2 separate regions of the Homo sapiens genome follow, and region 2 is linked to region 1. The links come from fine-mapping of genetic effects on gene expression. A gene starts in region 1. The other region holds a variant in brackets. All regions are shown on one strand. Distances are between the middles of the regions. Region 1 holds the start of EPRS1 (glutamyl-prolyl-tRNA synthetase 1). Region 2 has its middle 26 kb from the start of SLC30A10.

The links. PIP is the estimated chance that this variant, and not a neighbour inherited with it, causes the effect. A credible set is the group of variants that fine-mapping cannot tell apart.
Region 2: its variant is the best candidate, but not a certain one, in a credible set for the expression of EPRS1 in fibroblasts (GTEx, PIP 0.73).

The regions. Positions count from the first base shown.
Region 1 is chr1:220,042,711-220,057,811 of GRCh38, forward strand. It overlaps EPRS1 (glutamyl-prolyl-tRNA synthetase 1), which reads right to left and starts at 3,795. Exons shown (of 32, transcript NM_004446.3): 1 at 3,633-3,795. The coding sequence starts at 3,678. It overlaps BPNT1 (3'(2'), 5'-bisphosphate nucleotidase 1), which reads right to left. Exons shown (of 9, transcript NM_006085.6): 9 at 14,772-15,101. RefSeq lists enhancers at 2,948-3,505, 3,547-3,876, 3,937-4,006.
Region 2 is chr1:219,946,868-219,962,190 of GRCh38, forward strand. It overlaps a transcript of SLC30A10 not described here. Among named protein-coding and RNA genes, the nearest start is that of SLC30A10, 26 kb to the left of the region's middle. The variant G/T (reference allele first, on the strand shown) is at 9,133.

The sequences.
Region 1 (15,101 bases):
AGAGATCGAGACCATCCTGGACAACATGGTGAAACTCCGTCTCTACTAAAAATACAAAAAATTAGCTGGGCGTGGTGGCATGCGCCTATAGTCCCAGCTACTCGGGAGGCTGAGGCAGGAGGATCACATGAAACTGGGAGGCAGAGGTTTCAGTGAGCCAAGATCGCACCACTGCACTCCAGCCTGGTGACAGGGTGAGACTCCATCTCAAAAAACAAACAAACAAAAAACAACATCAACAACAACAAAAGTAAACTACTGTCATAGACAAAAAGATATATGAATTTCAGAAGTATTATCCTAGGCACATATGAGAATATAAGAATATATATAATATGATTCAATGTATATGAAATTATAGAAAAAGCAAAAAAGTGACAAAAAGAAGATGAGTCGCTATTAGGTGCTAGGAGTAGGGAAAGGAATGACTGCAAAGGGGCGTGAGAGGACTTTCTGAAGTAATGGAAATACTCTACATGATGACTGTGGTGTAGATTACACACTTGTCACATTTGTCACATTGTACACATTTGTCAATCACTTAAAATTGGTGAACAATTGTATACAAGTTATAATTCAATAAAACTAATTTTTAAAAACAAAATAATTTTAAATAGAAAATGAAAATAATACAAATTGTAACTTCTTGAGTATTTTTGCTATGATTTTTTTAAATGGGAAAAAGAGAAAGCTCTCCTCACAGAAAAATGCCAACTAATACATACAGAAGGAATGGTAGAATGGGAAAGTCACTATCTCGCAAACATCATAAAATCATAAAAATCAAGTTAGGCAGGAAGTATCAATGGATACTGAAACTAGTGGGTGAAGATCTGATGCAAAGTGGAACATTTACATGATTCCAATGCATCTGCCCATTAAAATTAAGGTTAGAATAATCAGTAATGGGAAAATTAAATTCATGCACCAACTGATGGGCTGCAATGAAGAACAAGGAATAACTACGCTATTCCTGCCAAAAACAAAGAGCCTGAATCTAGACACCAGGAAATATCAGACAACTTAAACAGAGGATATTCTTCAAGTTAAGTGGCCTGTTATCTTCAGAAAGGTCAAAGCTATGAAAGCCAAGGGAAGACTAGGAAACCATTCCAGACTGAAAGAAACTGGAGAGAGGTGACAATCAGATGCAAACAAAGCATAATACGGGATTTTGATCTCAACACTATGGAGGGTCTGGTTGTAACAAATAATGATAGAACAAGGATGGGGTCTGTGCATTAGATGGAAGCATTGTATCCAAGTGTATTTCCTGATTTGGGTGCTTGTGTGAGATCACCTGGAGTTTCCAAGTTTGTTGGGGATGTACACTGGAGTTATGCTGAGATACTGAAGCCTCATATCTACAGTATGCTCTTGGGTGGTATGGGGGAAAAAGGTCTTTATTTTAAGTTTGAAATTAACATTAAATATATAACATGATGAATGCATACAAAATAGGAAAATTCTAGCAATGCAACTATTATTTTAAAATGTTTCATCTAATTATATTACTTAAAGATAAAATGTAATTGAATTAAACTGGGAATAATTAAATCAAAAATTAAAAAGGGAGAGGAGCAATTAGAAAAATGATATATTTGATAACTGGCATACAGTTCAAAATGACAAGAGTTTCACAGAATACTGGCAGAATTCTGAGTTCTGTAATACACTACAGAAACAGGCCACCTTCAGGGTGATTTTCTAAGTAACAAAAAATGTATCAGGAGGCTGGGCATGGTGGCTCACACCTGTGGTCCTGGCACTTTGGGAGGCCAAGGCGGGCGGACTGCTTGAGGTCAGGAGTTTGAGACCAGCCTGGCCAACATGGCAAAATGCTGTGTCTACTAAAAAATACAAAAATTAGGCGGGCATGGTGGTGCGCACCTCTAAGCGCAACTACTCGTGTGGCTGAGAACAAGAATTGCTTGATCCTGGGAGGCAGAGGTTGCAATGAGCTCGGTCTCCAAAAAAAAAAAAAAAAAAAAAAAAAAAAAAAACAGTATCAGGAGCTTTAACTATAGTCTCACTTAACTCTGGCAACCAATCCTATCTGGAAGACATTATTCTCCCTTTCTTAAAACAAGGAAACTATGGGAGAAGCTAAATAAGGAACTTGTCAAGGTTTCACAACTAGTAAGTGGCAGCCAGGATTGGACTCAGGTCTGCAGAAACCAAATGTCTTTGCTCTCAATCATGAAGGCACTCTAATGCCTTTCCAGCTCAGGAATCAAACCCATTCCTTTTAGAGTTCATTGATTTGTTGTGCGGTTAGTCCATTACTGCAACCAATATGCCAAAACATTACCATCTTTTAAATGTTTAAAATGGCTATTAAGTTGTGTTTTTGTTCAACAACCTTAAAACATCACCAAAGTTGAGAATATAATGAATAATTTCATCAGCCCCACGTGGTCAACTGTATATAAAGGTATGGGCTTCTTCAACATTAGAAAGTACTGTGTGTGTATTATCATACATATGCATTAACAAATATTAGGTCAGGCTGGGTACTGTGGCTCACGCCTGTAATCCTAGTACTTTGGGAGGCCAAGTCAGGATGGCTTGAGCCCAGGAGTTTGAGACCTGCCTGGGCAACACAGTGAAACGCCATCTTTCCAAAAAAGACACAAACACAAAATTAGCCAGGCATGGTGGCACGCGCCTGTAGTCCCAGCTACTAAGGAGGCTGAGGTGGGAGGATCATCTGAGCCCGGAAGTTCGATGCTGCAGTGAGCCTTGAAAGCGCCACTGCACTCCAGCCTGGACGATAGAGCAAGACCCTGACTCTCAAAAGAAAAAAAAAAATCGGCAAACTACTTAAATTCTTCTGTGTAATTTCCCAAAGTAATGAAAAAGCAGAAATTCTAAGCAATCTACCAACAATAATCTTGGTCATGTCGAAAAAATAATTCCAAACAGAACTTAAGATGTGTCAGTAAGGTGACAGATCCAATGTTTACTCTGAAATTTACTACACATCCACAGGGTGCAGTAAAAGCAACCGCATCAGTCTACAGTGTACCTGGGTGTTTTCCCCAATTACCCTACCACATTTAATTAAAAATAAATGCAGCCTCAGTTGAAATCCTAAATGCTAATATGCTCGTCTGGGTTATTTCTTCTGAACTCGATAAAACGTAAGGAAAATTTGACTCAAGTGAACTGAGGATTTCTCCTGAGAGGAGGGACAGGACAGGAAAGGAGGTAAGAAAAGGAGTTGGGGGAAAAATGCTAAAAGAGAAGCGACGACTATTGGATTTTAAGTTTTAAAATCTTATTTCCACGAGCAACTCTCGCTCTCCGGGGGAAAAAGGGAGAGGTGAGTTGACTGGGAGTTCATCCCTCTGAGAAAAAGATCCGAAGCGGAGTCTCGTGTTGTCTAGCCCGGGCTCACACTGCGCCTCCCTCCATGCCCGGGAAAACCATCTTCAGGAGCAGATGCACCTGCCGGGGACACGGGGCGAGGGGTGCGGAGCCTCCTCCACGTACAATTCTGGGGCGAGGGGCAGGTCCAACATCCCAGATGGTGACCACCACTGCGCAAAGCCGGGGCGCAGCGACCTTCCACGCCCTGCACCCTCCCTGGCTGATGCAACCCACACAGGTCATTGGTCTCGGCCCCTTACCTAGCGGAGGGTCTCCTGAATTCACGGTCAGAGAGAGCGTCGCCATCTCCACCAGTCCGCTGGTCCACCTGTCAGTACGCCTGGCTCGTGCCAGAACTACGGAGGACCCCGCGAAAGGAAGAAGATGCAACGTGTGCGCGTACCCGACGCCGCCGCAGCCTTCGCTCCGCCCCTGCGCCGCAGCTACTGCCGACACCGCGCACGCCGCGGTGCGACATCGTCGCGCGCCGTCTTCGTCCCCGCCCGCAGGTTCCAGAGCCTGCTACCCCTCCTCTTGGCCGCCAGGGTTAGAACGGCCTGCGTGGCCTTTCGTGCTGCGGTGGGAAAGACGCTGAAGTGGACGGGACTTTACGACACTTCGTCAAGTCAGCAGGTCGTAAAACAGCAGGTTGTAAAACCATCTTTAAGATGGGATAGGCGTTTATGTGAAGCACGAAACAAAAGCATGCACTGTCTTTATGTAAAAAGAAAAGTCCTGGAAGCATACACACGATAGCCATGATTACGTTGGGAATGGGAGAAGTTTTTCTCGTTGTTTATTTTATACATTCCCCCCCGTTTTTTTTTTTCCAAAACAAGAACGTATTTTCAAGAGTTATTTGCGTGTTGAAAATAATGGTTAAAGGAAATATAAAAGACTCTTTAAAAATCACTGCAGGCCGGGCGTGGTGGCTCACGCCTGTAATCTCAGCACTTTAGAAGGTGTAGGCGGGCGGATCACCTGAGGTCAGGAGTTCGAGACCAGTCTGGCCAGCATGGTGAAACCCCATCTCTACTAAAAATACAAAAATTAGCCTGGCATGGTGGTGGGCCCCTGTAATCCCAGCTACTTGGGAGGCTGAGGCAGGAGAATCGCTTGAACCTGGGAGGTGGAGGTTGCAGTGAGCCGAGATCGTGCTACTGCATCCAGCCTGGGCGACAGAGTGAGACTCCTTCTCGAAAAGAAAAAAAAAAAAAATCACAGCAGAGGCCGGGCGCGGTGGCTCAGGCCTGTAATCCCAGCACTTTGGGAGGCCGGAGGCGAGCGGATCTCGAGGTCAGGAGTTGGAGACCAGCTTCACCAACATGGTGAAACTGTAGAGACGGGGGTCTCTACTAAAAGTACAAAAATTAGCCGGGAATGGTAGCGCGCACCTTTAATCCTAGCTACTTGGGGAGCTGAGGCAGGAGAATCGCTTGAACCCGGGAGGAGGAGGTTGCGGTGAGCCGAGATCGCGGCACTGCACTCCAGCCTGGGCGACAGACTGAGACCCCGTTTCAAAACAAACAAAAAATCACTGCAGATAGGCGCAGTGGCGCGCTCCTGTAGTCTCAGCTATTAAGAAGGCTGAGGCAGGATCGCCTGAGCCCAGGAAGATGAGGCTGTAGTGGCCTCGCCGTGGACTTGCCTGTGAGTAGCCACTACCCTCCAGCCTGGCCGACACAGGGAGAGACCTGATCTAAAAAACAAAACAAAAAAACCCTCCGATGCCGCCCCCAATCATGGAGTCCACAGGTGTTTTTTTCAGCGTCTCATCTGATTCTCCCTTTCAAATCCTTTGTGACGGACGTGCATGCATGAGCTCCAGAGATACTCCAAGGTGTATACACACATTCGTGTGTGTGAGCTGCACCCATATTTCAAGGGCTGGTGTTAAAGTACGGGGACCCGGGATGGATTCCAAGAACCATCTCAACCACATCCTCGCCTACACTTTTTCTTAACCTCCCCAAGACATCCTTGTTTTCATTAGGGAGGGCCCCTTAGATTACATCTCCCATGAGACTTGAGGCCAGGCGCGGTGGCTCATGCCTGTAATCCCAGCACTTTGGGAAGCTGAGGCGGGCGGATCACCTAAGGTCGAGAGTTTGAGACCAGCCAAGCCAACATGGAGAAACCCCATCTCTAGTAAAAATACAAAAAAATAGCTGGGTGTGGTGGTGCATGCCTGTAATCCCAGCTACTCGGGAGGCTGACGCCAGAGAATCGCTTGAACCTGGGAGGCAGAGGTTTCGGTGAGCTGACATCACGCCATTGCACTCCAGCCTGGGTAACAGGAGCAAAACTTCATCTCAATAAAAAAAAAAAAAAAAAAAAAGAAGCCTACTTTCAGGATAGTGGGACTTATAGCAGAAAGTCTTAGGTCTTAGAGTTACCATCTTGTTGGATGCTTTTACTAGTTCCAATCATTTTTTAGTTATGTTGGATTTTCTAGGTAAATATCATTTTCTTCCTATCCAAAATTTACATGACCTATATCTTATCTCTTTCATTGGCTAGAACTTCCAGAATGATGTTAAATGGGAGCAATAATAGTGTCGAATAAGAGAGTATTTGCTTTGTTCCTGACTTTAGTGGGAATGCCGCTAATGTTGCATTATCAAGAATAGTGTCTGTGGCCGGGCACGGTGGCTCGCACCCGTAATCCCAGCACTTGGGAGGCCGAGGTGGGTGGATCACCTAAGTAGAGGACTTCGAGACCAGCCTGATCAACATGGTGAAACCCTGTCTCTACTAAAAATACAAAATTAGCTGGGCGTGGTGGTGCATGCCTGTAATCCCAGCTACTCAGGAGGCTGAGGCAGGAGAATCGCATGAACCTGGGAGCTGGAGGTTGCAGTGAGCAGAGATCATGCCACTGTACTCCAGCCCGGGGCAACAAGAGCAAAAAGTCCGTCTCAAAAAAAAAAATGTTAAAGAATAGTGTCTGTAAGCCAGGTGTAATGGCTCATACCTGTAATCCCAACACTTTGGGAGGCTGAGGTAGGCAGAACACCTGAGGTCCGGAGTTCGAGACTAGCCTGGTGAATATGGTGAAACCGCGTCATTTTACTAAAAATACAAAATTAGCCTGGAGTAGTGGTGCATGCCTGTAGTCCCAGCTACTTGGCAGTCTGAGGCAGGAGAATCACTGGAACCCAGGAGGCAGAGGTTGCAGTGAGCCTAGATGGCACCATTGCACTCCAGCCTGGGCAATAAGAGCAAAACTTTGTCTCAAAAAAAAAAAAAAAAGAATAGTGTCTGCTAGGTTGGCTGCAATGGCTCTTGCTGGTAATGTCAGCACTTTGGCAGGCCCAGATGGGAGGATCACCTGAGACCAGGAGTTTGAAGGTACAGTGAGCTATGATCGCGCCACCGCACTATAGCCTGGATGACAGAACAAGACCCTTTCCCTGAAAATAAAAATAAAAAAAGAATAGTGTTTGCCGCTGGTTTCTTATATATTCTTAGGTTAACAGGGTTTTTTTTTTTCTTTTTGAGACAGAGTTTCGCTCTCGTTGCCCAGGCTAGAGTGCAACGGCATGATATTGGCTCACTGTAGCCTCCGACACCTGGGTTCAAGTGATTCTCCTGCCTCAGCCTCCAAAGTAGCTGGGATTACAGGCACCTGCCACCACGCCCAGCTAATTTTTGTATTTTTAGCAGAGATGGGGTTTCATCATGTTGGCTAGGCTTATCTCGAACTCCTGACCTGAGGTGGTCTGCCCGCCTCGGCCTCCAAAGTGCTGGGATTACAGGCCTGAGCCACCGTGCCCAGCCCTGGATTCTTTTTAAAATCAAGAATGGGTATTGGATTTTCACTCCTTATTATTGTGTACATAAACAGGAGATACAGAGATGAAAGGTGAAGTCCCTGTCCTCAAGAAGCCTTTTTTTTTTTTTTGAGATAGAGTCTCATTTTGTTGCCCAGGCTAGAGTGCACTGGCATGATCTGGGCTCACTGCAACCTCCGCCTCCCTGGTTCAAGCAATTCTCTTGCCTTTGCCTCCTGAGTAGCTGGGATTACAGGTGTGTGCCACCATGCCCAGCTAATTTTTGTATTTTTAGTAGAGACGGGATTTCACCATGTTGCCCAGGCTGGTCTCAAACTCCCAACCTCAGGTGTTCTACCTGCCTCAGCCTCCCAAAGTGCTGGGATTCTGTGCTGGGATTACAGGTGTGAACCACCACGCCCAAACTTTTTTTTTTTTTTTTTTAGACAGAGCAGGCTGTAGTCCAGTGGCACGATTATAGCTCACTGCAGTCTCAATCTCCTGGGCTCAAGCGATCTTCCCACCTCAGCCCCCCAAGTAGCTAGAACTACAGGCATGCTCACCATGCCTAGCTAATTTTTTATTTTCTGTAGGTATGGGGTCTGTGTTGCCCAGGTTGGTCTTGAACTCCTGGACTCAAGCAATACTCCTCCCTCAACTGCTCAAAGTAGTGGGATTACAGGCATGAGCCACCGTGCCTGACCAAGAAGGCTACAGACTTTGGGAGGCCGAGGTGGGTGGATCACCTGAGGTTGGGAGTTGGAGACCAGCCTGGCCAACATGGTGAAATCCTGTCTCTACTAAAAATAGAAAAATTAGCCTGGCGGGCATGGTGGCACACACCTGTAATTCCAGCTACTGGGGAGGCTGAGGCAGGAGAATCGCTTGAACTCAGGAGGTGGAGGTTGCAGTGAGCTGAGATTGCGCCACTGCACTCCAGCCTGGGCAACAGAGCAAGACTGTGTCTAAAAAACAAAACAAAACAAAACAAAAACACAAGGTAAATAAAAATTGCTACACAGTGAGATATATGTAGCAATAGAAATATGTTCATATTAAAAACATTTTGGGGCCGGGGTGCAGTAACTCACACCTGTAATCCCAGCACTTTGGAAGGCTGAGGCGGGTGGGTCACTTGAGGTCAGGAGTTTGAGACCAGCCTGGCTAATATGGTGAAACCCCATCTCTACAAAAAATACAAAAATTAGCTGGGCTTGGTGGCACATGCCTGTAATCCCAGCTACTCTGGAGGCTGAGGCAGGAGAATTGCTTGAGCCCAGGAGGCAGAGGTTGCAGTGAGCCGATATCGCATCACTACACTCCAGCCTGGGTGACAGAGTGAGATGTGAGACTCTGTCTAAAAAAAAAAAAAAATTGAAATGAGAGTAAAAATAATAAACTTTGCAGAAAGTACAAAGATAGCTCAGAAGATGGAAGATGATTATCCATGTTGAGTGAGGAAGGAAAGACAGAATGGTAAAGGAAAGCTTTGGCTAAAAGATGGCATATTTGGCTGGGCACAGTAATATACCTGTAATCCTGTATGCCTGTAATTACACCTGTAATCCTAGCACTGTGGGAAACCGAGGTGGGAGGATCACTTGAGGCCAGAAGTTTGAGATCAGCCTAGGTAACATAGCAAGGCCCTGTCTCCACAAAGAAAAAAAAAAAATTAGTTGGGTGTGGTGGTTTATGCCTGTAGTCCCAGCTACGTGGGAGATTGAGGCAGGAGGGTCACTTGAGTCCACTTGAGGAGTTTAAGGTTGCAGTGAGCTATGATCATGCCATTGTATTCAATCCTTGGCAACAGAGCAAGACCCTGTCCCCCCCCTCAAAAAAAGTATATTTAAGGAGTGGGGGAAAAAAGGGGGTAAAAGAAGAATATGAGCTAAAACCTGAAGTCATGAAGCTGTGTGTACTTGGAAAACTCTGACCAGTTCGTTATTGCCAGAATATAAAATCTTTTGGAAGTAAGGGACTAAAAGGCTGGAATGTAGGCAGACTAAATTAGGAAGAGTTCTATATATCATGCTGAGGAGCAAGATTTTATCTTATGATAGAAAGTCGGTGAAAAGTTTTAGGCAGGAGCAGGAGATGTGATTAGGATCATATTTTACAAGGATGACTTCGACAATAATATAGGAGATGACTTGGAGTGCGCAGAACTGGCATTAGGGAAACCAGTTAAGATGTTATTACAACAGTCCATATGAGAGAAAATAAAAGATGATGGCCTGAACTAAGGCAGTGGAATAAGATCTGAGAATAGAGAACAAGTTTCAGATATATTTAGGAGGTAAAATCAGTAATGACAGACGAGATGTTTGGGGAGGTGATGGTGAAAGAAGCAATTTTTTAATTTTTTTTCTTTTTGATACAGTCTCCCTCTGTCACCCAGGCTGAAGTGCAGAGGCACAATCTCAGCTCGCTGCAACCTCCACCTCCCAGGTTCAAGCACTTCTCATCCCTCAGCCTCCCAAGTAGCTGGGAGTACAGGCGTGTGCCACCACATCCAGCTAATTTTTCTGTATTTTTGGTAGAGATGGGGTTTCGCCATGTTGGCCAAGCTGGTCTCAAACTCTTGGCCTCAAGTGATCTGCCATCCTCAGCCTCCCAAATTGCTGGGATTACACTGCACCCGGCCGAGAAGCAAATTTGCCTAGGTTTATTCCTAGATTTCAGCTGGATAAATGGGTGGATGGTTATGTCATTATCAAAGGAGGGAAGACAAGAGAGGAAACAGAGTTGGCAAATTATTTGGTTCTAGACTGATTTTTTGAGATGTCTGTAAGATATGTAGGTGAAAATATCCTTTACAAATTGCAGATTTGTATAATATTTGTATTATATTTGTATAATTTGTATAATATATAATTTGTATATATTTGTATAATATTTGTAATATATTTGTATAATAATATAATAAAATCTGGGGCTCAGTTGAAATGTTTTGCTGAAGGTGTGAGTAGTTATTAAAATGGATGAGATAAGCCTGGAGAAGAAGATACAGAGCTATGCTATACAGTGTGGTAGGCACTAGACACATACGACCATTTTCTTTTTTCTTTTTCTTTTTTTTTGAGATGGAGTCTCACTCTGTCGCCCAGGCTGGAGTGCAGTGGCGCAATCCCAGCACACTGCAACCTCCGCCTCCCGGGTTCAAGCGATTCTCCTGCCTCAGCCTTCTTAGTAGCTGGGATTAAAGGCACATAGCACCACGCCCAGCTAATTTTTGTATTTTAGTAGAGACAGGATTTCACCATGTTGGCCAGGCTGGTCTTGAACTCCTGACCTCAGGTGATCCACCTGCCTTGGCCTCCCAAAGTGCTGGGATTACAGGCGTGAGCCACCATGCCTGGCCTCATTTTATTTTTTCTAACAGCGTCATTGAGATATAATTCACATACCATAAAATTCACCTATTTAAAGTGTATAATTCAGAGTTCAATCATCACCACAATTACTTCTAGAACATTTTATCATCCCCTAAAGAAACTTTGTACCCTTTGGCAGTCACTTCCCATTTCCCCTCAATCCTTGAAATATTTTTTAAAAATGTTTAAGGATGTAGATGACTTGACCCCTACCTGCATCCCCAATCTCATTTCTTTTTTATAATTTTTAATACCCAAGTTCTGCCTCAGGATCTATCCCAACCTCATTTTATAACACTCTGCCCCTTGTTCATTTTACTTCAGCCACTGTGGCTTCCTTTAAGTTCTTTTTCTTTGTCTTCTCAGAGATGTTGTTTGCTTGCTATATACACTAGAAATCTCAGCTCTTAGTGTGCCTGACCAGACATCATCTCCACGGAAAACATACTCCTATTTTTATGTACAGAAGATCCTCTTTCAACCCTCCAACCCTACCCCAGTTGCTTTCTAGCTCATCTTCCTGATTTCATTTATAGCATTTACCACAATCTAAAATTTTATTTACTTATTATCTGTCTTGTTTCACAAGAACACATGCTCAACAAAGGAACAGACTTATGGTCACTGTTACATCCACTGTTGAATGTTCAGTACCTGGCTGGGCAAGGTGGATCACACCTGTAATCCCAGCACTTTGGGAGGCCGAGGCGGGTGGATCACCTGAGGTCAGGAGTTCGAGACCAGCCTGGCCAACATGGTGAAACCCCAACTCTACTAAAAATTCAAAAAATTAGCCAGGCGTTGTGGCGGGCACCTGTAATCCCAGCTACTTGGGAGGCTGAGGCAGGAGAATCGCTTGAACCTGGGAGGCAGAAGTTGCAGTGAGCCTGGGCAACAAGAATGAAACTCTGTCTCAAAAAAAAAAAAAAGAAAGAATGTTCAGTACCTATGTTCAGTGCCTAACACATAGTAGGTGCTCAATAAATATTTGTTCAATGAATGGAGGCCATGCTAAGAGAAAAGATAGTGTTTTAGGGGAACTTTAAATGGTTGAGCATGGCTACAGTATAGGTTAGGGTCAGAGTTGATGCTGGAGAAGGAAGAAGCCATTAAGAGCTTCATATATCATTATAAGGAGTTTGCATTTTATCCTGAAGGCAAAGGAAAGCCATAAAATATTTTGAGTAAGGGGAATGGCATTACATTTGATTTTAAAAAATCACTTTGGGCCCGGTGTGGTAACTCACGCTTGTAAAATCACAGCGTTTTGGGAAGCTGAGGTGGGCGAATCCCTTGAGACCAGGATTTTGAGACCAGCTTGTGCAACATGGTGAAACCCCATCTCTACAAAAAATATACAAAAATGAGTCAGGCGTTTTTTTTTTTTTTTTTTTTTTGAGATGGAGTCTTTCTTTGTCACCCAGGTTGGAGTGCAGTGGCATGATCTTGGCTCACTGCAACCTCCATCTCCTGGGTTCATGCAATTCTCCTGCCTCAGCCTCCCAAGTAGCTGGGATTACAGGCATGTGCCACCATGCCTGGCTAATTTTTGTATTTTTAGGAGAGACAGGGTTTCACCATATTGGTCAGGCTGGTCTTGAACTCCTGACCTCAAGTGATCCACCCACCTCAGCCTCCCAAAGTGCTGGGATTACAGGCGTGAGACACCACGCCCGGCTTAGCCAGGCGTTACTGTGCAAACCTGTAGTCTCAGCTACTTGGGGGGGCTGAGGCAGGAGAATTGCTTAAGCCCAGGAGGTCAAGGCTGCAGTGAGCTATAAGCACACCACTGCACTCCAGCCTGGGTGACAGAGCGAGACCCTGTCTCAAAAACAAAACAAAACAAAAAAATCACTCTGGAGATGACGTGATAAATGGATGAGAGAGAGATAGATGGGTTACAGTGTAGGCAGAAAGATTAGTCAAGACACTGCAGGGATCTAGGGAAGAAATAACGGGGTATAAGGGTATAAACTAATGTAATTAATGTAGAGTCAAGAGTAATGGAGAGAGGATTTAGACTCCTACATATCTCACTTACATAAATTGGGTTTTCGTATAGGAACCTGAAGAAAATACCTTCAAAGTTATTTTCGGCCGGGTGTGGTGGCTCACACCTGTAATCCCAGCACTTTGGGAGGCTGAGGAAGGTGGATCACCTGAGGTCAGGAGTTCAAGACCAGCCTGGCCAACATGGTGAAACCCCTGTCTCTACTAAAGATACAAAAAATTAGCCAGGTGTGGTGGTGTGCCCCTGCTACTCGGGAGGCTGAAGCAGGAGAACCACTTGAACCCGGGAGGCAGAGGTTGTAGTGAGCTGAAATCATGCCATTGCACTCCAGCCTGGGTGACAGAGTGAGACTCCATCTCAAAAAAAAAAAAAAAAAAAAAAAAGTTATTATCTTAGGGCTGGGCGCAGTGGCTCACACCTATAATCCCAACACTTTGGGAGGCCAAGGCAGGCGGATCACCTGAGGTCAGGAGTTCGAGACCAGCCTGGCCAACATGGTGAAACCCCATCTTTACTAAAAATACAAAAATTACCTGGGCGTGGTGGCACATGCCTGTAATCCCAGCTACTCAGGAGGCTGAGGCAGGAGAATCGCTTGAACCCGTGAGGCGGAGGCTGCAGTGAGCCAAGATTGCGCCCCTGCACTCCAGCCTGGCGACAGAGCGAGACTCCGTCTCAAGAAATATATAAATAAATAAAAATAAAGTTATTCTCTTGTTACACTTAGATTTTTTAAAAATTAGGTTTAGTCCACTATTTACAGATAGAGAACTCCATTCGTAGAGGGAAGCAGGTGGATTCAGGTGATGATTTTCTAACTTGGCCAATTATCAAGATCACCTCATGGGTTTGTAAAATAATTTCTGGAGGGGTCGGGGCAAGAGTGAAGAACTGTTTAGACATAATCATTCAGACATCTCTGTAAGGCATCTAGGTAGGTTTTGGGGTATATAGATCTAGAGTTTGAGAGTTCTAAGCTAAAGATTTTGGATTAATGAGCAAAAGCGCCACAAAAGTCACACAGGTGGATTAGATCCTCTGGTGAGAAAGGAGAGAAAGCATAGTCCAGGTGCAGTGGCTCACACCTATAATCCCAGCACATTGGGAGACAGAGGCAGGAGGATTGCTTGAGGCTAGGAGTTCAAGACCAGCCTGGGCTGTATAGCAAGACCCCATCTCTACCAAAAAAAGAAAAAAAAGAAAGGAGAGAGACTAGAACAGAATCTTGGTAAACAGTGACATTTAAGGGAAGGAAGACAAAGAGAAAGCAATAAAGGAGACTGAGTAGGAGTGGCTAGGTGAAAAAAGAAAGCCAGGACAATGAGAAGAGACTTACAGGAGGGAGGGCTCAAAGGTGTCAAGACCACAGAGACCTCTTCCTGCTAGATTATGACACTTCTATAAAATAATACTATATTACCTTATCTAGTGAGTCCTAGAGTTAAATGATTATCAGTCCCTGAATTTCTTAAAATATACAGAAGCAGGCTGAGCGTGGTGGCTCACATTTGTAATCCCAGGACTTTGGGAGGCCAAGGTGGGCAGATTATGAGGTCAGAAGATCGAGACCATCCTGGCTAACACAGCGAAACCCCGTCTCTACTAAAAATACAAAAAATTAGCCAGGGGTGGTGGCATGTGCCTGTAGTCCCAGCTACTCAGGAGGCTGAGGCAGGAGAATCGCTTGAGCCCGGGAGGTGGAGGTTGCAGTGAGCCGAGATTGCACCACTGCACTCTGGCCTGGGTGACAGAGAGTGACTCTGTCTCAAAATAAATAAATAAATAAGTAAATAAACACACACACACACACACACACACACACACACACACAAGCAAAATCGTTGGGATAAACCCTGTGAATTTTTATTTTTATTGTTTGAGACAGAGTCTCGCTTTGTTGCCCAGGCTGGAGTGCAGTGGCACGATCTCAGCTCACTGCAACCTCTGCCTCCCAGGTTCAAGTGATCCTCCTGCCTCAGCCCCCTGGTAGCTGGGATTACAGGCACACACCACCATGCCCGGCTAATTTTCGTATTTTTAGGAGAGACAGGGTTTCGCCATGTTGGCCAGGCTGGTCTCGAACTCCTGACCTCAGGCGATCCACCCGCCTCGGCCTCCCAAAGTGCTGTGATTACAGGCATGAGCCACTGCGCCTGGCCTGTGAATCTGCATTTTAAAAGAATCTTCCTAGGTGATTCTGATATGCAGTTGAGTTTGGGAACTGTTAATTTAAACCACTTGTTGATTTGAAAACAGATAATTTTAATTAAAAGCAATGGACAGAGACCTAAAAATAAAAATCTAGGTATATTAGCAGAATAATTTTAATAGTTTATGTTATAATCTCTCATTGGAAGGAATAGAAGCAAGTACTTAGCTTTCCACAATTAAGCCTTATAATGATGCCACAAGAATAAACTAATCCCCAAAGTCGAGAATGTATAATTTTCAAACACTTTTTTAAAAAGCTGGTGAATAACAAAGAGCTAGGATTAAATAATTTATTTAAAAAAAACTTTTCTCATAAATCTGTTTCATAAGCATATATAATAACATCATATATATTCTTAA
Region 2 (15,323 bases), 96 kb before region 1:
TTTTATTCCTTATTTCTCAAGTAGTTCCAGATTTATGAATGAAGTTGTTTATTGGCCCCCAAAAGTCCCAACAATGTGCTCAACTGGCTCTGGTCAGCATGTGTGGAGCTAGTTGCTAGTTCTCCTCTTTCCTCTCCTTCATGACCTTAAGAGAGTTTCTTCAGGTAAAGAATTCTACAGAAAACAGATGGTCCATTCAGCCAGTTGCCCCTTCAACCTGACTTCTCTGCTGTTCCTTTGTAAGGAGCCAGCCCCTACCTCCCATTGACCTGATGTAAGGATCATCTTTATTTTATTTCCTATTAAGCTGATACATTTTTAAAGATCTCATGGCAGATGAAGAACAAGAGCATAGGTATACTTTATCAAAAACTACATCCTCAGGGTGCAATGGCTCATGCCTGTGATCCTAGGATTTTGCGAGGCCAAGGTGGAAGGATTGCTTGAGGGCAGGAGTTCGAGATCAGCTTGGGCAACATGGTAAGACCCCCATCTCTACAAAAAAATGAAAAATAATGGTTGGGTATGGTTGGCAGGCACCTGTGGTCTTGGCTACTTAAGAGGCTGAGATGGGAGGATCGCTTGAGCCTGGGAGGTTGAGGCTGCTGTGAGCTGTGGTCATGCCACTGCACTCTGGCCTGGGTGACAGAGCAAGATCCTGTCTCAAAAAAAAATTACCTCCTCAAAATTCTCTAAAGACACCTATTCAGGTGCAGACAGTATATATCAGGACATGGACTATGGAAAACATTCTAAGGACAGGGAATCTCCAGATATTATTGCCTCTCATTAAAAAACAATGAGGCCAGGTGTGGTGGCTCACACCTGTAATCACGCCTGTAATCCCAGCTACTTGGGAGGCCAAGGCAGGAGAATCACTTGAACCCGGGGGGCAGAGGTTGCAGTGAGCCAAGATCACACCATTGCACTCCAGCCTGGGCAACCAATAAGAGAGAAACTCCGTCTCAAAAATAAATAAATAAAAATAAAAACCCCATTGTCTCAGCCCAAAATCTCCTTAAGCTGATAAGCAACTTCAGCAAAGTTTCAGGATACAAAATCAATGTACAAAAATCACAAGCATTCTTATACACCAATAACAGACAAACAGAGAGCCAAATCATGAGTGAACTCCCATTCACAATTGCTTCAAAGAGAATAAAATACCTAGGAATCCAACTTACAAGGGACGTGAAGGATCTCTTCAAGGAGAACTACAAACCACTGCTCAATGAAATAAAAGAGGATACAAACAAATGGAAGAACATTCCATGCTCATGGGTAGGAAGAATCAATATCATGAAAATGGCCATACTGCCCAAGGTAATTTATAGATTCAATGCCATCCCCATCAAGCTACCAATGACTTTCTTCACAGAATTGGAAAAAACTACTTTAAAGTTCATATGGAACCAAAAAAGAGCCCGCATCGCCAAGTCAATCCTAAGCCAAAAGAACAAAGCTGGAGGCATCACATTACCTGACTTCAAACTATACTACAAGGCTACAGTAACCAAAACAGCATGGTACTGGTACCAAAACAGAGATATAGATCAATGGAACAGAACAGAGCCCTCAGAAATAATGCCACGTATCTACAACTATCTGATTTTTGACAAACCTGAGAAAAACAAGCAATGGGGAAAAGATTCCCTATTTAATAAATGGTGCTGGGAAAACTGGCTAGCCATATGTAGAAAGCTGAAACTGGATCCCTTCCTTACACCTTATACAAAAATTAATTCAAGATGGATTAAAGACTTAAACGTTAGACCTAAAACCACAAAAACCCTAGAAGAAAACCTATGCATTACCATTAAGGACATAGGCATGAGCAAGGACTTCATGTCTAAAACACCAAAAGCAATGGCAACAAAAGCCAAAATTGACAAATGGGATCTAATTAAACTAAAGAGCTTCTGCACCGCAAAAGAAACTACCATCAGAGTGAACAGGCAACCTACAAAATGGGAGAAAATTTTCGCAACCTACTCATGTGACAAAGGGCTAATATCCAGAATCTACAAAAAACTCTAACAAATTTACAAGAAAAAAACAACCCCATCAAAAAGTGGGCGAAGGACATGAACAGACACTTCTCAAAAGAAGACATTTATGCAGCCAAAAAACACATGAAAAAATGCTCACCATCACTGGCCATCAGAGAAATGCAAATCAAAACCACAATGAGATACCATCTCACACCAGTTAGAATGGCAATCATTAAAAAGTCAGGAAACAACAGGTGCTGGAGAGGATGTGGAGATAGGAACACTTTTACACTGTTGGTGGGACTGTAAACTAGTTCAACCCTTGTGGAAGTCAGCATGGTGATTCCTCAGGGATCTAGAACTAGAAATACCATTTGACCCAGCCATCCCATTACTGGGTATATACCCAAAGGACTATAAATCATGCTGCTATAAAGACACATGCACACGTATGTTTATTGCGGCACTATTCACAATAGCAAAGACTTGGAACCAACCCAAATGTCCAACAATGATAGACTGGATTAAGAAAATGTGGCACATGTACACCATGGAATACTATACAGCCATAAAAAATGATGAGTTCATGTCCTTTGTAGGGACATGAATGAAATTGGAAACCATCATTCTCAGTAAACTATCGCAAGAACAAAAAACCAAACACCGCATATTCTCACTCATAGGTGGGAATTGAACAATGAGAATACATGGACACAGGAAGGGGAACATCACATTCTGGGGACTGTTGGGGGGAGCGGGAAGGGATAGCTTTAGGAGATATACCTAATGCTAGATGACGAGTTAATGGGTGCAGCACACCAGCACGACACATGTATACATATGTAACTAACCTGCACATTGTGCACATGTACCCTAAAACTTAAAGTATAATAATAATAAAATAAAATAAAATAAAAATAAAAATAAAAAAAGAAAAATTGGTGTATTTCATAATCATCAGAGACAGTTGTACACAATGTTTTCAAAAAGCCACAATGACTATTGTCTCCATCAAAAGAACAAGAAAGAGGCAAAAAATTAGAAATATAATGTCTCCATCTTGTAAACAGCTAGCCAATAAGAAAACCAAAATAATAAGCTTACTTTCACCCTACCTTCCTGAAAAATCAAGCTTCTCAGCAAAGAAAATGGGGAGTATCATTATTCACTAGACAGGACTGCAGGAAAATATTCAAGAGGCAAACTATCTGTTGACAGAAGAGAGGTGCAGTAATACAAAGTCCAGCTCTAACATCAACTTTGGGTTAGCCATAAAACGGTTGATGCCTCAGTTTCTTCATCTGTATCTTGGAAATTACAGTCTAGTATATGAGCCACATTTGCATTATTTCAATGAGCTACATATTGACATTGCATTACCATTAAAGCAGTTTAAAATATGTAGTTTTAAAAGTACAAGTAATGGCCTGCTACAAAATGCCATCTTGAGCACTGAAAGATGGGGAAGCTAACATTTACAAGAGCCTTCTTAAAAATCTGGCTGGGCGCGGTGGCTCATGCCTGTAATCCCAGCACTTTGGGAGGCCGAGGTGGGTGGATCACGAAGTCAGGAGATCGAGACCATCCTGGCTAACACAGTGAAACCCCATCTCTACTAAAAATACAAAAAATTAGCCAGGCATGGTGGCGGGTGCCTGTAGTCCCAGCTACTGGGGAGGCTGAGGCAGGAGAATGGTGTGAACCCGGGAGGCAGAGTTTACAGTGAGCCAAGATCGTGCCACTGCACTCCAGCCTGGGCAACAGAGGAAGACTCTGTCTAAAAATAAATAAATAAATAAATAACACATAGGCTGGGCGTGTTGGCTCATGCCCATGATCCCGGTACTTTGGGAGGCCGAGACAGGTGGATCACCTGAGGTCAGGAGTTTGAGACCAGCCTAGCCAACATGAAACCCCATCTCTACTAAAAAACACAAAAATTAGCCAGGCGTGGTGGCGGGCGCCTGTAATCCCAGCTACTCAGAAGGCTGAGGCAGGAGAATGGTTTAAACCTAGGAGGTAGAGGTTGCAGTGAGCTGAGATCATGCCATTGCACTCCAACCTAGGTGACAAGAGCAAAACTCCGTCTCAAAAATAAATAAATAAAACACACCATGAAGGTGTTGTTATTTGTCAAAAGAAAAACAGATTCTTATGGCTCACTGCAGCCTTGATAAGAAGGTGCATCTGTCCTCAGGCTCAGGTGATCCTCCCACCTCAGCTTCCCAAGTAGCTGGAACTATAGGCACGCACCACCACATCTGGCTAATTTTTCTTATTTTTGTAGAGGTGAGTCCTCGCTATGTTGCCGAGGCTGGTCTCAAACTCCTGGGCTCAAGCAATCCACCCACTTCAGCCTCCCAAAGTGCTGGGATTACAGGTGTGAGCCACCGCCCCTGGCTGTAGAGTGATTCTTTAAAATAGGTGTAATGATACCTAAGATGAGGCTCAAAGTGCTTAAGTATCTTTTCCAGTGTCAGAACCAGTGGATGAGGGAGGACGTTCCAGAACATGTATTTTTCTTTTTTTAAGTTAATTTATTGTGTAGTTATTTATTTACTTTTAGAAACAGGGACTTGGGGGCCGGGCGCGGTGGCTCACGCCTGTAATCCCAGCACTTTGGGAGGCCGAGGCGTGTGGATCACGAGGTCAGGAGATCGAGACCATCCTGGCTAACATGGTGAAACCCCGTCTCTACTAAAAATACAAAAAATTAGCCGGGTGTGGTGGCGGGTGCCTGTAGTCCCAGCTACTCGGGAGGCTGAGGCAGGAGAATGGCGTGAACCCAGGAGGCGGAGCTTGCAGTGAGCCAAGATCGCGCCACTGCACTCCAGCCTGGACGACAGAGTGAGACTCCATCTCAAAAAAAAAAAGAAAAGAAAAGAAAAGGAAAGAAACAGGGACTTGGTCTGTCACCCAGGTTGGAGTGTAATGGCATGCTATCATAGCTCTTTGCAACCTCAAACTCCTGGGTCCAAGCTATCCTCCTGTCTTGGCCTCCCAAAGTGCTGGGATTACAGGCATGAACATTGTGCCCAGCTGAAATATATATTTTTGTTACTGGTCTATGCTCCTTCTGGTTCATCCCACAAGAGATGCCACTAACCCATCATCAAAACAACACATGTTTTGTACGGTTTGTAGAAATAGTGATGGATCTGCTGTAACCATATATATGATTAACAATAATAAGAGTCTTGGCAAGGATAAGGTGGCCTGCCAGTTTGTGGATGTGAAATAGAGCAGAGACCTTGTCTGCCAAGGGATCTTACTAATATTTCATTAGTTCCTCTTCCCTTCAGCCCTTGGACAATCACTACCAGCCACCACCACCACCACCAATGTTACCATTTATTGAGTGTTCAGTGTATTCCAAGTACTGTGTTGAGTACTTTACACAAATAATATAATTTCATTCTTGCAACATCTCTAAGAGACAGATATTACCAGATTTACAGATGAAGAAACTGAGGTTTAGAAAGTTTAAGTGACTTTTTGGAGGTCATCTAGCTACTGGAATTAGGATTCAACTTATGGTATGTTCATTTGCACATTTTAATATGCCCTTTTGTGATTATTGCCAAATAACTTTCCACAGTCCATAACTGTTTTCCTCTCTGAGGGGAGCCAAGTAGAGTAGAGTCTTTAATTAAGGGCCTGGACTCAAAGTTTTAATTTCTTTGTACCCTACTATTAACTAGCTGTATGATTGTGGAATTTGTCTGAACCTGTTTTCCTTGTCTAAACAATGGAAATAAATAGCAAGTATTCTCTCTAGCTAATTATTTTGTACAGTTCTTCAAATGTATGTGATATGATGCTGTTAATTATTCTCTCTATACTCTGACAAAGACTGACAATGCACAGATGTCAATATAAACTCATTTTTCATTAAAATTTACCTGATATCAGTCATAGCAGCCTCTGCACATTGGAAAAAAAAATTACTAAGAACAAAGAGATGGTCTCTTTAACTTCTTTTTTCTTCAGTTGAATTTGGTTTCACAAATGTGAAATAGCACCTATTTTTCTATCTTCCTTTAATCTTTCTTATTTACTCCCCGTAACTAATCCAGACCCCTTCACGGGACAACAAGAGAAGTAAGAGGTTAGGTAAGCTGTCAGGAACGTAGCAAAAGAGCTGTGAGGGAATTTATTAGGTCTCTACCATGGGACAGATACTGTGATCTGTGGTGTGTGCATTCTTATCACCGAATCCTCATGTGGAAGTTAATTGATCAACAGCTGTGACAGTGCTTGGAAAACAATGGTTACTGTCAGATATAGACAAAATGCAAAGTAAAGCTGGTGGGAATTAAGCATCATGTTTCTTTAAATTATTTAATAATTATCACAAATTCCCAATCATTACCATTCTGCCTCCGATCTAGAAAGGGAACTCAGGTAACCTATGCCTAGAAAACCTTCCCTTTTCTAGTTTGAAAAGCCACCTTCAGGCCGGGCACGGTGGCTCATGCCTGTAATCCCAGCACTTTGGGAGGCCGAGGCGGGCAGATCATGAGGTCAGGAGATCGAGACCATCCTGGCTAACACGGTGAAACTCCGTCTCTACTAAAAATACAAAAAATTAGCCGGGTGTGGTGGCACAAGCCTGTAATCCCACCTACTCGGGAGGCTGAGGCAGGAGCAGGAGAATTGCTTGGACCAGGGAGGCAGAGGTTATCGTGAGCCCGAGACTGTGCCACTGCACTCCAGACTGGGTGACAGAGTGAGACTCCGTCTCAAAAAAAAAAGAAAAAGAAAAGAAAGAAAGAAAAGCTACCTTCAATTATGCAGCTTCTCAAATTTTATTTTATTTTATTTTATTTTATTTTATTTTATTTTATTTTATTTTATTTTATTTTTGAGACTGAGTCTTGCTCTGTTGCCCAGGCTGGAGTGCAGTGGCCCGATCTCGGCTCACTGCAAGCTCCACCTCCTGGGTTCACACCATTCTCTTGCCTCAGCCTCCCGAGTAGCTGGGACTACAGGCGCCTGCCACCACGCCCGGCTAATTTTTTGTATATTTAGTAGAGATGGGGTTTCACCGTGTTAGGCAGGATGGTCTCGATCTCCTGACCTCATGATCTGCCCGCCTCAGCCTCCCAAAGTGCTGGGATTACAGGCGTGAGCCACCGCGCCCGGCCTCAAATTTTATTTACTCCATAGTATTTGCTACTGGTAGAGAGACAGCAAATTCCCCTTTGCCTCTCCTAAAATTCTTGGCCTTGCCTACTCTGCTTGTCACTGAATAAAATTTCCTCTATGACAAAAGGAAACCTGACTTGTTTCAGCGGCTACAGGACTGTCCACGTGAAAAGCCCATGTCAGGCTATAGTACTGAGTCTTAACTAGAAGCTTGCATGAGCAACTAATCAGCAGTGTGTTAAAACCTTCTGCAACAATACACTTTGCTGGATGCTGTGCTGTCACTGCCTCTAGCGAGTTGGTTGGAGAAACATAATGCCAGAACCGTGATTATGAGAAACAGAAGGAGAGAGAGAGAAAGCAAGCACAATTTGGAATCAAAACAAAACTTAGCCGGGCACAGTGGTTCACACCTGTAATCCCAGCACTTTGGGAGGCTGAGGCGGGTGGATCACTTGAGGCCAGGAGTTCAAGACCAGCCTGGCCAACATGGTGACACCCCATTTCTACTAAAAATACAAAAATTAGCTGGGCATAGTGGCGCACGCCTGTAATCCCAGTTACTTGGGAGGCCGAGGCACGAGAATTGCTTGAACCGAGGAGGCAGAGGTTGCAGTGAGCCAAAGATCATACCACTGCACTCTAGCCTGGGCAACAGAGTGAGACTCCATCTCAAAAAAAAAAAAAAAAAAAAAAAACTTAAATTCAAAGGAAAGGCATTTTTTTAAGAAAAAAATACTTTAAAATAATTAACAGATATTTCTGATATAAATGTATCATTTGTACATGATATAAATGGCAGGCCCCGTCTATCCCAGACAGAAAAAGACGCAAAATAGAGCAGAAGCCATCCTACTAGAAAAGTGAGCTGTACAAGGTCACCTTTAGGTTAAAATAAAGGCCACTGTACAGCAAGGTTATTCGTACAGTACAAGGCAAGGGCATGGAGGGTTTTAGTAGCTTGATTCTAAAGAAACTTCAGGTCTGAAAAAATAACTAAAAATAAGACTTAAACATGAAAGATAACAAGAAAATCAAGGAAAATCAAATAAAGTAAGCAAGGAATAGGAAAACGTATAAACGTTAACAAAAGGAGTCCCTAAGCCTAGAGAAAGAAACTGGCTCGTGACAAGTATCTCCTGCGATCTGGACCTACATGTTGTTTCCACCCCTTCAACCTTTCCCCTACTCCCTTCCCCGAAACACATGCACACACAAAGCCATCGACCATTGTGGACTTTAACCCTATTTTGTTTGTTTGTCTTTTACTTAATGCTCGTATTTTTTACTTTTTTCACTTTGCCTCTCACTTTAGCCAAAAATACTGGCTCTACCATCACCTGAACTTCCTCACACCTTTTAGAGTCAGGGGTGACCTCCCACCGGCTAGATCTGGATCTAAGACTTCCAAGTTTTCTCATCTCAGCTAAATCTTCCAGACATTCTTTTCTCGCAGGTTTTAAAAATTTTCTGGTTCTGTATGTCTGATTCTCCAGTATAACTTTTTTCATGAATCCCAGGGATATTTAAAGTCTTACCTATATATAGTTTGTTCTATTATATTTAATTTAAAGTTAGTGGTCTTGATTTTTTTTACTTTCCATGATCTCAAACATCAAATATTATGAATTCAATTTCTACACCAGATAGATAAGCAGAACAAGTAAAAGATCCACAAAACCTGGGGGAGACTGAAGGCTTGTTAAGCAAAATCTCTAGTTAGAGATTCCACAAAAGAAGTGATACATTACTGGATTCTGATCATGAAGCCAGGCGGTACCAGGAGTTGTTTTATAGGCACTGCCATGTGCTATAAGCTAGGGTTCTAGACTTACAGAAATTCTTTATCCTAAGTTTAGGTTGAATCTTTTGAAATCAAGAGTCTTTCCCTCTCATAGTTTATAACTCCTTTTATAAATATGGATGGATTAATCATATTTGTTCTTAAAATGTGAGCCAATTGATATCAGGTTAATGTCAATTTATGACGTTC[G/T]TCTGATGCAATATTTATTCTTTTCTTTAAACCAATTTAGATGATGGGAAGAATACCAAAATGTATGGTTCAGAAAAGGTGATACATAACTGCAGACATAAATGCTAACAAGCCAAACAGCTGTCCTAAAGGAATTTGGCAAGTTTAAACACTAAAATTTCTTTTCTTTTTCTTTTTTCTTCTTTTTTAGTGACAGGGTCTCACTCTGTCACCCTGGCTGAAGTGCAGTGGTGTGATCATAGCTCACTGCAGCCTCAAACTTCTGGGCTCAAGTGATCCTCCTGCCTCAGTCTCCTCAAGTCTAGGATTACAGGCATGAGCTGCTGTACACAGCCTAAAATTTCTAATAGAAGAATTTAACAACACCAAAAGCTGCCAAAATAATAATGGTAACATAGAACATGGATCTTAAAGCGTGAGTCACACGTGTATTGTACCTATCACTTATTTAAACTAGAACACTATATAGCATCAAATACTTCAAAACAAGCTAGATACTCTAGAATTAAGCCAGCAGAAACCCATATGGCTGGACCAGACACTGGGGCACACACCTATAATCCCAGTGCTTTGGGAGGCCAAGCAGGTGGATCACTTGAGCTCAAGAGTTCGAGACCAGCCTGGCCAACATGGCGAAACCCTGTCTCTACTAAAAATAAAAATTAAAAAAAAAAAAAAGAAGAAAAGAAAAAAAAGAAACCCATATGGTTGGAGTGAAACATTTGTCTTAAGCCTCTTGTTATCTCAGCATGAACATACACATTGGAAAATACCACTTCCCAAACAAAAGCTTAACTAAGACCTATCCAGTAATAATTCAATTTTATAAAAATAGAACTATGGTGTGTACCAAGTTTCATACTGGTCAGAGTCAGACCGTTTACCTAAATTGCTTTTGTTATGTGCAGGTAAATGTTGTATGTCAAGAATGAAGGCAAAATCAGAACTGTTATGTGACAATCAAAAATATAATGGTAATGTCAACACTAATCATTTGAAATCATCTCTCTTGCCTTAAATTTATACCTAGCAATAAAAAATATATATTTGTCTTATATGAAATATGTGAATTTCATGATCTGGAAGCTCTAGTAGTAATTTTCACGATGATTGGTGTAGCCATAGCATAGGGTCTCAAGTTAACAATGAATTTTCCTTTACAAAAGATGAGGCCCAAATTCAGTGATTCATTAACTCAAATAAAAATCTAGACTCTAGTTTCTAATTTATTTTTATGTTTACCACATCCTACAGATACTCTCATAACATATGTTCTACCAACAGGAAAATCGACACAGAGGTAGGATAAAGGACCGGCTCCAACTGACGTAATTTATCATAGTAGCAAAGACAGGGAATCAAATAAAAAATGCAACTTAGCCTCTGAGGTCCCCATACTCAGTTATATAATGGCCCAGCTACTGAGAGAAAACTCTTCAGCATCAAATAAGGAAATATTTGAAATTTTTAAAAATTCATATGAGCTATTAGAATTAAATACCGGATTGCCATGTAGTTTAAAGGCTTGCATTGTGATTTCGAAAATAATTTATATTTATCAAGTGCCTACTAAATACTAAATAAGTTACTTAGCATTTCTCTCAGTCCTTATTAACTCCATATTACAGGTAGAGAAACATGCTAGGTGAAGTAAGTTGACTATTGCCCTGTGCTGGAACCATAATTTGAATCTATTCATGCTATATGACTTCTTTTATAAAAGCACTAAAAATTTCTCTTCTGTAAGAACTTTCTGATACATATATACTTACAAACACCTCTTGTGGCAATAAATTAAAGAAACATGATTCCATCTTAAAAAAAAAGCATCTTATAGATATATTGTTCTCTTCCAAGATTTAATTCCATTCTTTTGACAGATAATCTAATAAGTTTGGTACTCACACTTAAGTCTCTCCTAAAGATTCACATGTAAATTGTCCTGTTTCTCAAACAGAACAGACGTATGCAATAAATAAGTGCAAATTTTCCTTTCAAAAACTAGCCCATTTACTGGACTATCTTCTTTATTTTTTCTCTCGCCATTTTACATACCATTCCTCAAATATATTCCTAACAGTTAATCAGCGTACCTGATTGTCTGATACTGTGCTCTTTGTAAGTTGGTTATGTAGCCCAGTACTTTTAAACATATTTTATGGAGACATTAACTTTTTTTTAAATTCAAACATAGCCATGTCACATATGGGTAAACAACAGTGAATCACTTAAAGAAGACTGCCACATCCACCGTCTTTCCAATCGCTCTCTCTGTGGCTACGATTAGTGCCTTTACTTCCTCTCTGCGTGCCTGAAGACACTTTTTCATTCCCTGTGAGTAAAAATTCGAGAAGTCCTCCCAACATTGAAGCAAACTGCTGCTACCCTACTCACAAGGAACCTCAAACTAAAGGCAACTCTTCTGAGAAAGGTCGATTGTAAAATCACAGGGACAAAAGGCTGACCCAAAGACTCGGGCCCCTTTGGATAGCACCACAAAGGCCCCCTCAGACAGCACCTGCCAGGACTCTCACCAAATTTACTGCCACCCTCTGAGTAGCTATTTACCTGCTTCCATGTCTCCCTGGGGCTTGGGTGCTGCGCAGTAACAGCAGTCCAAGAAGATGACATAGTTAAGAACATTGAAGAACAGACCGATAATTCCAGCACTGAGAACCAGTATCGGCTCCTCTGTCTTCTGGGGATTGATGTACCTTTTGATGGCTTCAACCAGGATGCTGAACATCAGCGCCACCGCAAAAATGGTGTTCCCAAATGCTCCCACAACATCTGCCCGAAGAAAGCCGTAAGTGCTCTTCTTGTGCTGTTTTATGTTACTGGCCCTTACACCAAAAAAACCTATGATCATGGACACAAAGTGGGAAAGGACGGCAAAAGCATCGGAGGCCAAGGAGAGGGAGTTGCCAACGTAAGCGATCACTAGTTCCATCACAAAGAGGAGGATGCTAACGACGCACATGAGGATTAAACGGAAGCTTCTTCCGGAGTATCGCCCCATGGCGTCTCGGTGCCCTGGCAGTTCCTCTCCCTTTCTTGGGAAGGCTGAGCTGCTAGGGAAGCAGCTATAGATTCAGTGATTACAACTCCTGGGTAACTCTTCCCTTCAGCCCTCCGGCGCTTGTCATATTTGGAAATCACCTTTTATAGGTTGCTATAAAGCCATAAAACAGTTTAAAGGGCAATTAAGCAAGAGATGTCACATGAGCCAGGATTTATGGAAATACAAGACACTGGCTTCAGATATGGACTTGAGAGACTGTTTTGTTTGTGCATGTGTGTGTTTAATTACAGACGTCAAGAGCTTCTGTGTCCTTGAGTCATGTAGAAGCTCATCAGTGGCGGTGGCCTTTCCAGCTTCCATGCTCCGTGTGTGCAGAAACAGCTCAGGTGAAGCAAGTCATTTGACATAAGCAATTACATCTTGTCCACCTGGTGTGCAGTTCTGAATGTCATTTACTGTGTGAAGTAGGGAATATTCGAGGGGTCACCCTACTTCCAAACATTCTCTATAAGACAAAAGAAATATTCCTCATATTCAGGAAATCTTTAAACTGGAAGAGCTGAAGACATAATTCCAGTTAGTTTCCAGGAAGACAGACAGGTAATAATGATTTCACTGATGCAAGGAAGTTTTTGTTTTTATTTTTAAAAAATGTTATCTGTCAAACACTCATAGCCCTTAAAGGCCTATCAGTTCCAAAATGACTGAAACAGCAGTGGCCTCTATTGTGAGCAGCCTGACTACTGTCAATATTTTAAAGAAACACAGAGTGATATTACAATCTCTATTTCTCCCAGATGTGATGTTAATTTTGTATGTCAACTTGACTGGTCATTTGGTCAATGACATGCAAGACTTTCTGGCTTTGTCTGTGAGTGTGTTTCTGGATGAAATTAACAGTTGGATCAGCAGAGTGAATGAAGGAGATTGCCCTCACTAATGTGGGTGGGCCTCCTCCAATCAGTTGAAGCCTGAGGAGAACAAAAATGCTGAATAAGAGGTAGCTCTTCCTGCCTGACTGCCTTCAGCCTGGGACGTTTGTTTTTTCCTGCCTTCAGACTCAAACTGAAACATGGACTCTTCCTGGGTCTTGAGCGTGTGGGTCTTTGATTTGGGCTACACCATCGGCTCTCCTGGGTCTCTTGCCTACTGATTCACCATCAATCTTGGGACTTCTTAGTCTTTTAATCATGTGAAATAATTCTTTATAATACATTTCTTTATATATATATATAAACATATATATAAATATATATAAACATATATATAAATATATATAAATATATATATAAATATATATAAATATATAAATATATAAATATATATGAATATATAAATATATATAAATATATATGAATATATAAATATATATATAAATATATATAAATATATATATAAATATATATAAATATATATAAATATATATAAATATATATAAATAAATATATAAATATATATAAATATATAAATATATATATAAATATGTAAATAAATATATATAAATATATAAATATATATAAATATATATAAATATATATAGAAATATATATAGAAATATATATAAATATATATAGAAATATATAGAAATATATATAGAAATATATATAAATATATATAAATATAGAAATATATATAAATATATATAAATATATATAGAAATATATAATATATATAAATATATATAAATATATAAATATATATATAAATATATATATAAATATATATAAATATATATAAATATATATAAATATATATAAATATATATATTAATATATAAATCTATATTAATATATATTAATATATAAATCTATATTAATATATATTAATATATATATTAATATATATTAATATATAAATATATATATTAATATATAAATATATATAAATATATATGTAAATATATATATAAATATATATAAATATATATATAAATACATATAAATATATATATAAATATATATAAATATATATATAAATATATATAAATATATATATAAATATATATAAATATATATAATATATAAATATATATATATATAAAAAACTATCTGTGTACCATGCATACACATTCTCATTGGTTCTGTTTCTCTGGAGAACACTGGCTAATAGTCTGACTTTGACTAAAACCTGATAATTTAGACAGTAGCCCTAACAGCTTCCATAGTATCTCATAAATTATCTCCAATTCAGTTAATATTCTGACAGACTTCCAATACAACCATATTGTGAAAATTATTGCTCTAAGACTAGCTCTTTCATCCATTCATGCCACAAATACTTACTGAGTGCCGACATGCTGGACAGAGTTCTAGGCTCCAGAGAGACAGCAGCCAACAAAACAGGCAAAAATCTCTGCCCTTATGAAGCTTGTATTCTAGTGATTGATGGGAGGAGATAAATGATTAACAAAATAAATTATGAAATGTATTGAATATTAAATGGTGATAAGTATGATGACACATAAAGCAGGGGAAAGAGATAGGGATGGATTGTAATTTTAAAGAAAATGGTCAGGGAAGAATTTTAAATAAATTTTAAATAAATTTAAATTTTAAATTTTAAATAAAATGATCAGGGAAGAATTTACTAAAATGTTCTTCGAATAAAGATCTGAAGGAGGTAAGAAACTAAACCACACAGACATCTGAAGGAAGATCTTTCTGGGCAGAAGGAACAATGCGCATGGGAATTCAAGGGACACCAAAGAGGTCAGCAGGGCTGGAGAGGAGTAATGGCGAGGATGAGAAAGAGGAGACAAAGCCAGAGAAGTGTGGAGCAGGGGCAGATCATGTGGGGCCTGGAGATGGGAGAATACTGAGCAGAAGAATGAGGAGGTCCTGTATATGTTTTAAAGGAATCGCTGTATGTGTTTGAGATCACATGAAAGCAGAGAGACCAGTTAGGAGGCTACTGCAATAATCTAGATGAGATTGTGGTTTAGACTAGGTGTAAAGTGGAAACACCCAGGCAGGACTGGCTACATAATTCATGGGTTCTACTGCAAAATGGAAAAGCAGGTTCCATTGTTCAAAAATTATCAAGAATGTTTTATTTTTTTGAGATAGTCATGCTCTATCGCCCCGTCTGGAGTGCAGTGGAATGATCTCTGCTCACTGCAACCTCTACCTCCTGGTTTCAAGTGATTCTTGTGCCTCAGCCTGCCAAGTAG